3 linked regions of the Homo sapiens genome follow. The protein of the gene in region 3 purifies or fractionates together with the protein of the main gene of each other region. This does not show direct contact. Each region holds a gene or a part of one and is shown on either strand. Other genes may lie near its edges.

The links.
Region 1: the proteins of RNF212 (region 3) and RPSA2 purify together in Homo sapiens (affinity purification with mass spectrometry; one large-scale study listed by BioGRID and IntAct). This does not show direct contact.
Region 2: the proteins of RNF212 (region 3) and SATB2 purify together in Homo sapiens (affinity purification with mass spectrometry; one large-scale study listed by BioGRID and IntAct). This does not show direct contact.

What each region holds. Positions count from the first base shown.
Region 1 is NC_000019.10:23,765,921-23,769,578, reverse strand, and holds part of RPSA2 (small ribosomal subunit protein uS2B), read right to left. Parts: intron 1-3,658. UniProt on the Homo sapiens protein: Required for the assembly and/or stability of the 40S ribosomal subunit. Required for the processing of the 20S rRNA-precursor to mature 18S rRNA in a late step of the maturation of 40S ribosomal subunits. Also functions as a cell surface receptor for laminin.
Region 2 is NC_000002.12:199,451,432-199,455,089, forward strand, and holds part of SATB2 (DNA-binding protein SATB2), read right to left. Parts: intron 1-3,658. UniProt on the Homo sapiens protein: Binds to DNA, at nuclear matrix- or scaffold-associated regions. Thought to recognize the sugar-phosphate structure of double-stranded DNA.
Region 3 is NC_000004.12:1,073,157-1,075,607, reverse strand, and holds part of RNF212 (probable E3 SUMO-protein ligase RNF212), read left to right. Parts: intron 1-1,945; coding exon 1,946-2,009; intron 2,010-2,414; coding exon 2,415-2,451. UniProt on the Homo sapiens protein: SUMO E3 ligase that acts as a regulator of crossing-over during meiosis: required to couple chromosome synapsis to the formation of crossover-specific recombination complexes.

The sequences.
Region 1 (3,658 bases), on a different chromosome or scaffold from region 3:
TGAGGTCAGGAATTTGAGACCAGCCTGGCCAACATGGTGAAACCTCATCTCTACTAAAAATACAAAAAGTAGCTGACTGTGGCGGTGCATGCCTATAATCCCAGCTACTCATGAGGCTGAGGCAGTTGAATCACTTGAACCCAGGAGGTGGAGGTTGCAGTGAGCCAAGATTTTGCCACTGCACTCCAGCCTGGGTGACAGAGCCAGACTCCATCTCGAAAAAAGAGAGTCACATCACCTAATTAAGTGTCTCAGAGTTAAGACACAGTGCCCCTCATGGGTAGGGCCCAGGAAGAAGTGTGAAGTCACATATAACCTTTGAGCTAGGCCCAGCAATGTGTCAAAATCACTCCAGTGGGTAGGGCCCAGGCCTAAGAAAAGAGTCATATCACGTAGGTGCTTGGCCAAGCAATACGTCACAATCCCCACTGTGGACAGGTCCCAGGGAGAAGAGAGTCACACAGTCTCAGCGATGGACCCAGATATATGTTACAGTGACTTCTGGGAGTCAGCAGAAGAATCAAATCACCTGTATGCTAAACTCAGGAATAAGTCATTCTCTCTTCTGTGGGCAAGGCCCGGCTGAAGAGGAGAGTTACATCACCTTGGTGCTGGGCCCAAATATATGTCACAATCTCTTTTTGGGCAACGTTCAGGTAAGAGAGAAGAGTCACATAAAATAGTTAAAGGGGGCCAAGCACAATGGCTCACACCTGTAATCCCATCACTTTAAGAGGTTGAGGCGGGCGGATTGGCTGAGGTCAGGAGTTTGAGAACAGCCTGGCCAACATGGTGAAACCCTGTCTCTACTAAATATAGAAAAATTAGATGGGCCTGGTGGTGTGTACCTGTAATCCCAGCTACTAGGGAGGCTGAGGCAGGAGAATCGCTTGAACCTGCGAGGTGAAGGTTGTAGTGAGCCAAGATTGTACCACTGCACTCCAGCCTGGGCAAAAGAACGAGACTCTTTCTCAAAAAAAAAGAAAAAAAAAAAAAAAAAGCTTAAATATCTGTCCTTTTCAGACAATAAACATGTCATTTAAATATTTCCATGAGAGATAATTTAATAAACAACCATATGTGAACATTTCTAGAAAGTGTCAAGTTCCATGTCATAAAATTTTGCATTAAACTTGGATATCTAGACAACAGAATACAGAACAGAGATATCCACCATTACAAATTCTAGACTTTGAAAAAAAGAGGAGCTGATGGTTTGAGAAATATATACAATGCACCAATTAATCTATCATATTTGCTTGTGGAAATGTATTCACTTTGTATAGCCATAATGGAAAAAAGATTTTTCCTATTTCTCTTCTCTGGTAGCATTCTCAAAGCAAACCCCTGGGGTTCTATTTAAAATTACACAACCAGAAAAAAACATAAATTTAACAAATAAAACATATCACTAGATTTTTCTGAAATATACCTTTCATAGTCGTTGACTTTTTAAACATCTTTTAAGCTCTTCTGATGAAATGTAATTTACAGTTATTAAAAAACTGAAATTGGGCCGGGCGTGGTGGCTCACGCTTGTAATCCCAGCACTTTGGGAAGCTGAGGTGGGCAGATCATAAGGTCAGGAGTTCCAGACCAGCCTGGCCAACACAGTGAAACCCCGTCTCTACTAAAAATAGAAAAATTAGCTGGGCATGCTGGTGGGCGCCTGTAATCCCAGCTACTCAGGAGGCTGAGGCAGGAGAACAGCTTGAACCCGGGAGGCGGAGGTTGTGGTGAGCCAAGATTGTACCACTGCACTCCAGCCTGGGCGACAGAGCTAGACTCTGTCTCAAAAAAAAAAAAAAAAAAAAAAACTGAAATTGAAATAAGTGAAAAAATCTTTCCAAGGTGACAAACTCAGGAAGTGGCAGTGCTGATTGGGACACAAACATGTCTGACTCCACTGTCAAGTCAGACCATAATATCACTCAAAATATTCTGTCATCCCCATCCTGCCTATTAAATTACTCAGTGACCACCTTCCCAGGAGACACTTTGTACCCCACTGTGAGTCTCAGGTACATTTTGCTTGCAGGTTCTTGCATTGCCTTACTGGGATGGGATCTTCTTGTCCTTTGGAAAAAATTTTATTTCAAGAATCCAGAGAACAAAAATCATTTCTGCCTTTTCTCATCAATGCGAACATTTGATTGTCTCATCACCAATGTGTCTACTAAAAATAAAAATCAGGTTGAGAGGCCAGGCGTGGTGGCTCACACCTGTAATCCCTGCACTTTGAGAGCCCCAGGCAGATGGACCACCTGAGGTCATGAGTTAGAGACCAGCCTGGCAAACATAATGAAACCCCGTATGTACTAAAAATACAAAAAATTAGGCCGGGCACCGTGGTTCACGCCTGTAACCCCAAATCTTTGGGAGGGCGAGGCAGGTGGATAATCTGAGGTCAGGAGTTCGAGAACAGCCTGGGCAACATGGCGAAACCCCGTCTCTACTAAAAATACAATTAGCTGGGCGTGGTGGCACGCACCTGTCTACTCAGGAGGCTGAGGCAGGAGAATGGTTTGAAACCGGGAGGCAGAGGTTTCAGTGAGCCGAGATCATGCCACCGCACTCCAGCCTGGATGACAGAGCAAGACTCTGTCTCCCAAAAACACAAAACAAACAAGCAAACAAACAAAAATTCAAAAAATTAGCCGGCCTTGATAGCAGGCGCTTGTAATCCCAGCTACTCAGGACGCTGAGGTAGGAGAATTGGTTGAACCCAGGAGGTGAAGATTGTAGTGAGCCAAGATAACGACACTGCACTCCAGCCTGGGTAACAAGAGCGAAACTCCGTCTCAAAAAAAAAAAAAAAAACATTTGGCCCGGCACGGTGGCTCAGGCCTGTAATCCCAGCACTTTGGGAGGCCGAGGCGGGCGGATCACGAGGTCAGGAGATCAAGACCATCCTGGCTAACACGGTGAAACCCTGTCTCTACTAAATATACAAAAAATTAGCCGGGCAAGGTGGTGGGCGCCTGTAGTCCCAGCTACTCGGAAGGCTGAGGCAGGAGAATGGCGTGAACCCGGGAGGCGGAGCTTGCAGTGAGCCGGGGAGATCGCGCCACTGCCCTCCAGCCTGGGTGACAGAGCAAGACTCTGTCTCAAAAAAAAAAAAAAAAAATTAGCTTGAGAAAAAACTTCTTAACTGTTTACACACTTGTTCATTTTTATCTCATTGGGGGAAGACCTCTCAATATATTTCAGAGTCAAGAGGTAAAATTTTTTTAAAATAATTTTTTAAAGGGTACACTCTGAGGCTGGGCACAGTGGCTCATGCCTATAATCCCAGCTACTCGGGAGGCTGCGGTGGGAGAATCACTCGAACCTGGGAAGTGGAGGTTGTAGTGAGCCGAGACTGCACCACTGCACTCTAGCCTGGGAAAGAGAGTGAGACTCCATCTCAAAAAAAAAAAAAAAAAAAAAAAAAAAGGAAATGAAATATCCGCACCAGCAACATTAATACAAAAAGTTCTATTAAACAATGACACCCACTCAAATGTCACCTCTTCTATAAAGCCCTCCTTGATATTCCCACTGCTATGTTAGTGGCAGAATTGATCACTATTACCTTACAGCTCAATACCTTATGTCTTTTTATGTACAAGTATTATTCTCCAGAATAAATTAATTTTTTACACACCTATCCATGCTA
Region 2 (3,658 bases), on a different chromosome or scaffold from region 3:
AAAAGATCTTAAAACCTTAAAAAAAAAAAAAAAAAGTGAGGAGGGAGAAATACAATCTTTTCTCTTTTGAAGTAATGTGTACTTCCTACAAATATTATGATATTCATCCTTGGGAATGGAGTTTTCTCCATTTTGCCCATGTTAACAATATATTTCTAAGTATTTTATAATCTCAATATATACCTATCTATACTTTCATATCTGCATTCCTTTCAAAAAGTTAAATGTCTCTCTACTGTTGCTGATATGGTGACTACACCTGACCCGAACTGCATTTCTTTTCATCTAAAAGGAAGTGTTCCACATGTAGACAATTAAACTAACTGTTGTTGTAGACAATGTTCAGCTTTAAATGAGGCCCTGACTAACAATCTTGATCACATTTGCTTCCCTATTTGAATACATCAGTGTGTACTGCATAATGATTTTTTTCCCCCTTGCAACAAGACAGTTATGTTCTTGAAAGGGCTGCCTGGTAGCACGAATAGGTCTACTTCAGGTAGACTAGTTATAAGATAACTTTAACAGACAGTATGCCAACAAAATTAAATTGTTATTTATAAAACATAAATTATTTTTCAGAAATAAGCAAGTTTTTTTAATAAAAAAAGCAAATCTCTCTAAAAGATATTTTCAATGTTTAAATATTTTTCCCTAAAATGTAGAACATTTAACACCAAAAAATCATAAAAATTCATAGGAAAATGAAAAATATCAAAAAGATTTCTGATGTTTAATGTCTCCTATCAGCAAATACACCATCTGGTATATTCAAGCGCTGTTCATTCAGTTTAAATAAAGCTGTCTGAAAGTTCTTCTTTAAGCCAAACATTAAAAAATGAAAATGCTTGTGTTAACAATGAATGAAGCACAATAATTTATTGCTATTAAAGCACAACTGGCCAGCACCTTTCAGCAGTCCAGGAGAAAAGCAGAATGCCTTGCTTCCTCTGGAAACTTGATTGGCATCACTTTCATTTTATGCTGTAAGTTGCATGGCTGAAGCATTCCATACAGCAGAACATTTTAGGTACTTATGCTAATAGTGGTAAAAAGGATCATCTGATTCTTATTTTCATCATCCTTAATAATCCCTTCTTTTCCTAAATCTTCAAATAGATCTGTAAGTTTTAATCAACAATTTCACAAATATAAATTTCCCCACCATTAATCATCCTTTTTCAAAATCCTTATGGAGTGAATTACTAGCTGAGAGGGGACGCCAATTCTAGTAAGTGAATGTTACCCAGCAGGGATATAAAGCTGTCAACACCATGGTGCTCTTGCTAGCTCTAAACTCTCTCCTAGCCTTCATATGTTTTTTAAAGAGATATTAGCCTTTTTTTTTTCCTAAGGACCGTCTGTAAAAGCTGACTGACATACACATCTGAGCACTTACATTTTATTACATACATGCTTTAAAACACACTGCTCAGATAAGAGTAAAAACATCCCAGAAAGTGTTGGAAAGACAAAGCAAAACATCTAGTTTCTAACAGTCTTCTAAAGCTAACCACATAGTAAACAATCCACTTTTAAGTCCCCTGTTAAAACACAACCTTAAAGACAGTGACAGTGTATCTACCCTCTCTTCTATTTAAATTGAGACACTAAAGTAATGCCCCTTCTTTTATGAATACTTAGTTCTCATCAAAAAACACAGTAAATTCCCTCTACCTAAATAAGTAGAGTAACAGCAGAATTTATTACTGCAACCAATGCATTCAGAAGTATATTTAAACTATATTTACCTCACTGCTTATCAAAAACAGTAAGATAAATTGCTATTTGATTTGACAACCAATTAACTTGATCTCCCTTATTTTTAAAAGAACAGCTTTTAAGAAAGAGGAACACTAAAGATTAACAAATATGTACTCCCAAATTTTTGGCTCCACTTTTAAGACAAATTTTATTGTATCCATCATTACACCATTGAAAAGACTGCAATATATCTGAAAACGGTAATAAATGATACAGAGCTATAAATACTTGTGTAGTTATCTATGCTTATTATATTGCTTTATAAAGAAAATTTAAACAAAAGAACATAGAATGGTAGAAATATAATCTACTTTATATTTACTCTATGTTCAAAAAAATCCTTTAATTATAAAAAAACTAACTAGAAATGTATTTTAAACATTTTTTAAAATTTAGAATGTGCATTTTTCAAAAGGCCTGGCTTTGCTCCAAACTGTATACATGGTTAACAGTTACAAAGAAACTATTAACATCTTAACATACATTTGGAAATTATATAAACTTAAACTCATAATTTTGTTAACATTCAATTAGAAACCTTTGTACTATCAAAATCTTATCTTCTAAGTTGTTATATTCTAAAGTTGTCTAAATTAATCTCTTTACACACTATTATGCTGTCTTTTTTAAAAAAATTTAAATTCCACTAAACAATTTTAACCAGTTTACTATCGTGTATTATAAACGATATGTATTGAGACAAAATAATGTCATCTTTATTTTCAATTTGGGAAGCAGCTAATAAGACCTCTGCTATTACTAAATTAAGTTAATCAAGAGAAAGTGTCTAAGGCAGCTGGTTGAAACAAATCTATTATTCTTCACCAAGATAATAATTTTAGTTTATATTAAACACATAAGGGCTCAAATGTGAACTATAGTCTCAGAAAATTTGAAAACCAACCACTATTTAACACTAAAGTTATCCCTGGTCAACAGAACAAGGCACTTTCTTTCATAGTTCAACATGATATAGAGGAGGGGAAAAAACTTGTTTTAGGGAAGCACGTTGTTAACAATTACATTCTAAAATGTTTACAGCTCCTTTCAATTTAGTGAATTTTATTAGATCTTCAGAAAGATACCAAAATTTTAAGTCCAAGCCTTTTCTGTCCACAAAGGCCACTTTGGAACACACTGTCTCCAAGGAGTTTCAGAACTTTTTCAAACATTTTCAGCACTTAGCATATCTCATAATTGGTACCATCATACTCTATGAATTTTTATTTCTTATATGCATATACTAACTGATTATGCCAAAAGTCTGACATTATTTGCTCCAGTATCAGGACAACAAATTAATAAACCTCTCTTTTAAAAAGTGGGTCACAGAACTGTTTTCTTTTGCTTCAATAAAGTATATTTTCAAGTCCCAAAAAGGGGAGATAAACAAGCCAGAATCCATCACCAAACTTTTTAACTCACAACATTGAAAGGATGAATACTTCTCAAGTGAGACGATTAATATGAAAGACTGAGACAAACCATCCTAAGTATTTACCATGAAGAAATAGAAATAGCAAAATAAGTAAAAAGAAAAAAATACGATTTTATAAAACGTATGTGTTCAACTCTTTAAGGAGGAATGAACATTTTTAGATGTAAGTAACTATTTTGAAATACACACAATAGACACTTACAACAAGGGGGTGGGAGCTTATCATTAAGGTTTGCCAAGGTTTTATATCATTTAAGACAAGTTAATATATTGAATATTAAATGGGCTACTGTTGAAATTATTAGAGAAAAAACGTTAGAGGCAAAAAAAATTAAACTAGTGATTTATGCCAAACACACAGAAAACCTGCATGCCATGTGGAATTGTGGATTTTACATGTAAAAGACAACTAAGCAAATGGCATACAAACTCCAAAATATTTCAATGTTTAAATTT
Region 3 (2,451 bases):
ATCCCCAGTGCCCGAGGTGGGGCCTGGTAGCAGAAGTTTGGGTTATGGGGGCAGATCCCTGGTGGCTGGTGCTGTCTTTGCCATGGTGGGTGAGTTCTCACGAGATCTGGCTGGTTAAAAGTACATGGCACCACCCCCCAGTCTCTTGCCTGCTCGCCCTGCAACGCGCCTGCTCCCCCTTGGCCTCCCACCCTGATTGTAGCCTCCCAAGGCCTCCCCAGAAGCAGCTGTTGCCATGCTTCCTGTACGGCCCTCAGAAGCATGAGCCAGTTAAACCTCTTTTCTTTATGAATTACACAGTCTCTGGTATTTATCGCAGTGCAAGAATGGCCTAATACACCAGTTAAATGTGAAAACTGGTTTAAAGGAGAATCCAAAGAGCAAACATGCGTGTAGGCAGCCAAATGCAGATGTGAACACACCGATGCGTACACAGCCCCTCCCATGTGGCAGGAACCAGTGTCTTGCCCAGCCAAGTCTGCCATGGCCCATTTACAAGAAAGGTTTGCACCACTGTCTTCTGTAACTCACAGCTGTCAGACAGCACCAGGACGGGGAAAGACACCAGCACTTGAACGCTCTGCGGAGATTTTCTCTAAATGGAGCAGCAAATGGAATGTAGTTCGAAGGGACGGTGATGTCAAGGGGATTCTTAGGATGAACTTGATATTGAAGACATCCTAGCGGATGGAAGGATCCAGAAATGATGGCATAGCAGCACTCCAGGCAGGTGAAAGGAAGTACCTGGAGCCTGTCCTGATGAGGCAGGAATATGTCTGGTGTTCACAGGATGGCAGGCAGAGGCTGAAGGTACAGAGACAAAAGCTCCTGATTTCACAAGATTCTGTCTTCTTGGGGGTAGGAGTGAGGTCATGAGCTTCAGGTGGATGGGGAATGTGCTTAGTGGACAGCTCCATGAGAAAGCTGGCCTGCAGGCAGCTCAGAGGGCCATGCCAAGCAGGGGGGTCCGTCCTTCCAAGGTTAGAGTCTTGCCAGTGAGTAGGAGTGGAGGACTGGCAGGGTAGGGCCAAGGGTGTGGCAGAGAGAGTCCCTGGAGCAGGGCACTCCTGTGCTGGTAGAGAGACCATGAGGACACAGAGGGGCTTCCACGGTGTACTGGAAGGGCCTGTGGATTAAAGGATCTGTGGGGTGGCTGTGCCGGGGGCAGAAGCCAGGAAAGTGGGTAGCAGAGGTCTTGGCGGGGCACAGTTGATGGCGGCAGAGCCTGAGGACCAGCGGGGTGAGGCAAGGAGCCTGGGAACAGGAGATGCCAGCAGTGAGTGGAGAGCCAGAGGAGCGAGCCCAGGAAGGGGCAGCAACTAGAAGTAGCACCTTGCCATGCCCCCAGGTCGCACTGAGAGGCAGGAGGGGCTCAGAGCAGAGCAGCCTCCCTTACCAGTCTCAGAACCTGCGCTGGCAGCTCTGGGTTCACAGGTTCCTGTGGGTTGAGGAGGGATGGTGGCAGAAGCGGCCTCGTGGTTGCTGGATAGAGTGAAGGGTGGGCACAGAGCAGGGCCCAGCACACACAGCTCTGAGCAGCATTAGCTCCAACCTGTCCATCAGCATCTGGATTTCAAGGTGACAAAATTATGCACCCAAGAATGATTTACTCAGAATTTCACATTCTCTAACATCAGCTGCAAATTTTGTTTTTTTTCACCTAAAATTCCTAGTAGAGCCCTTTATCCGTTCACTGTTTTAGGCCCTGGTGGAACAGAGGGAATCAAACAGGTAATCAGGTAATACCCACCCACACCACCTCTACCACCAGCAGGCAGAGTCGGGAGGTGAACACAGAATCAAGTTAGACAGGAACTTGTCAGAGGGCGATAAAGATGAGGGAGATGGGGTTCTGGGAAATGTGTTCCTAACAGACAGTGGGAGTCCGAATCTCGTAAGCCGCAATATTGGAATTTTACCCATTGTTTTCTTGTTGCATTCTTAGTCTGAGATAGCAGCCGGCCCTGCGAGAATCTCCATGATTAGTCCACCTCAAGATGGACGAATGGGTAAGTAAAATGTCCTGTAACCTCAGACCGATACATGCATCGATTAAAATGCATTCCCTGAAAGGTCATGTTTAATCAAAGCTGTCAGAACCTACCCAAGGGGGTGCTGTCCTTCCACCCGGTGCATGGGAGGCTACATATTCACCAAAATGGTGCAGCTTTTGAGTCCTTCCAGGGAGAAGCTCCTGATGACCGTGTAACAAGTCACAGGAGATAACTGGCTCCTTTGCATTCTATGTCCTCTTGGTTTTAAACAAAAATAGTGTCACTGGGTTTGCTTCCTGGTAATTGGCTTTGAATTGCTGGTCCCTTTTCAAAGTGAATCCCTCCCTCACCCTCAGCACACATCCACCTCAGCCCACACAGGCCATCTCCCCACACGCTGTCTCCTGCATCTTCCCGCAGGGCCACATCTAACAGCTTCTTTCTGTTTCATCCCATG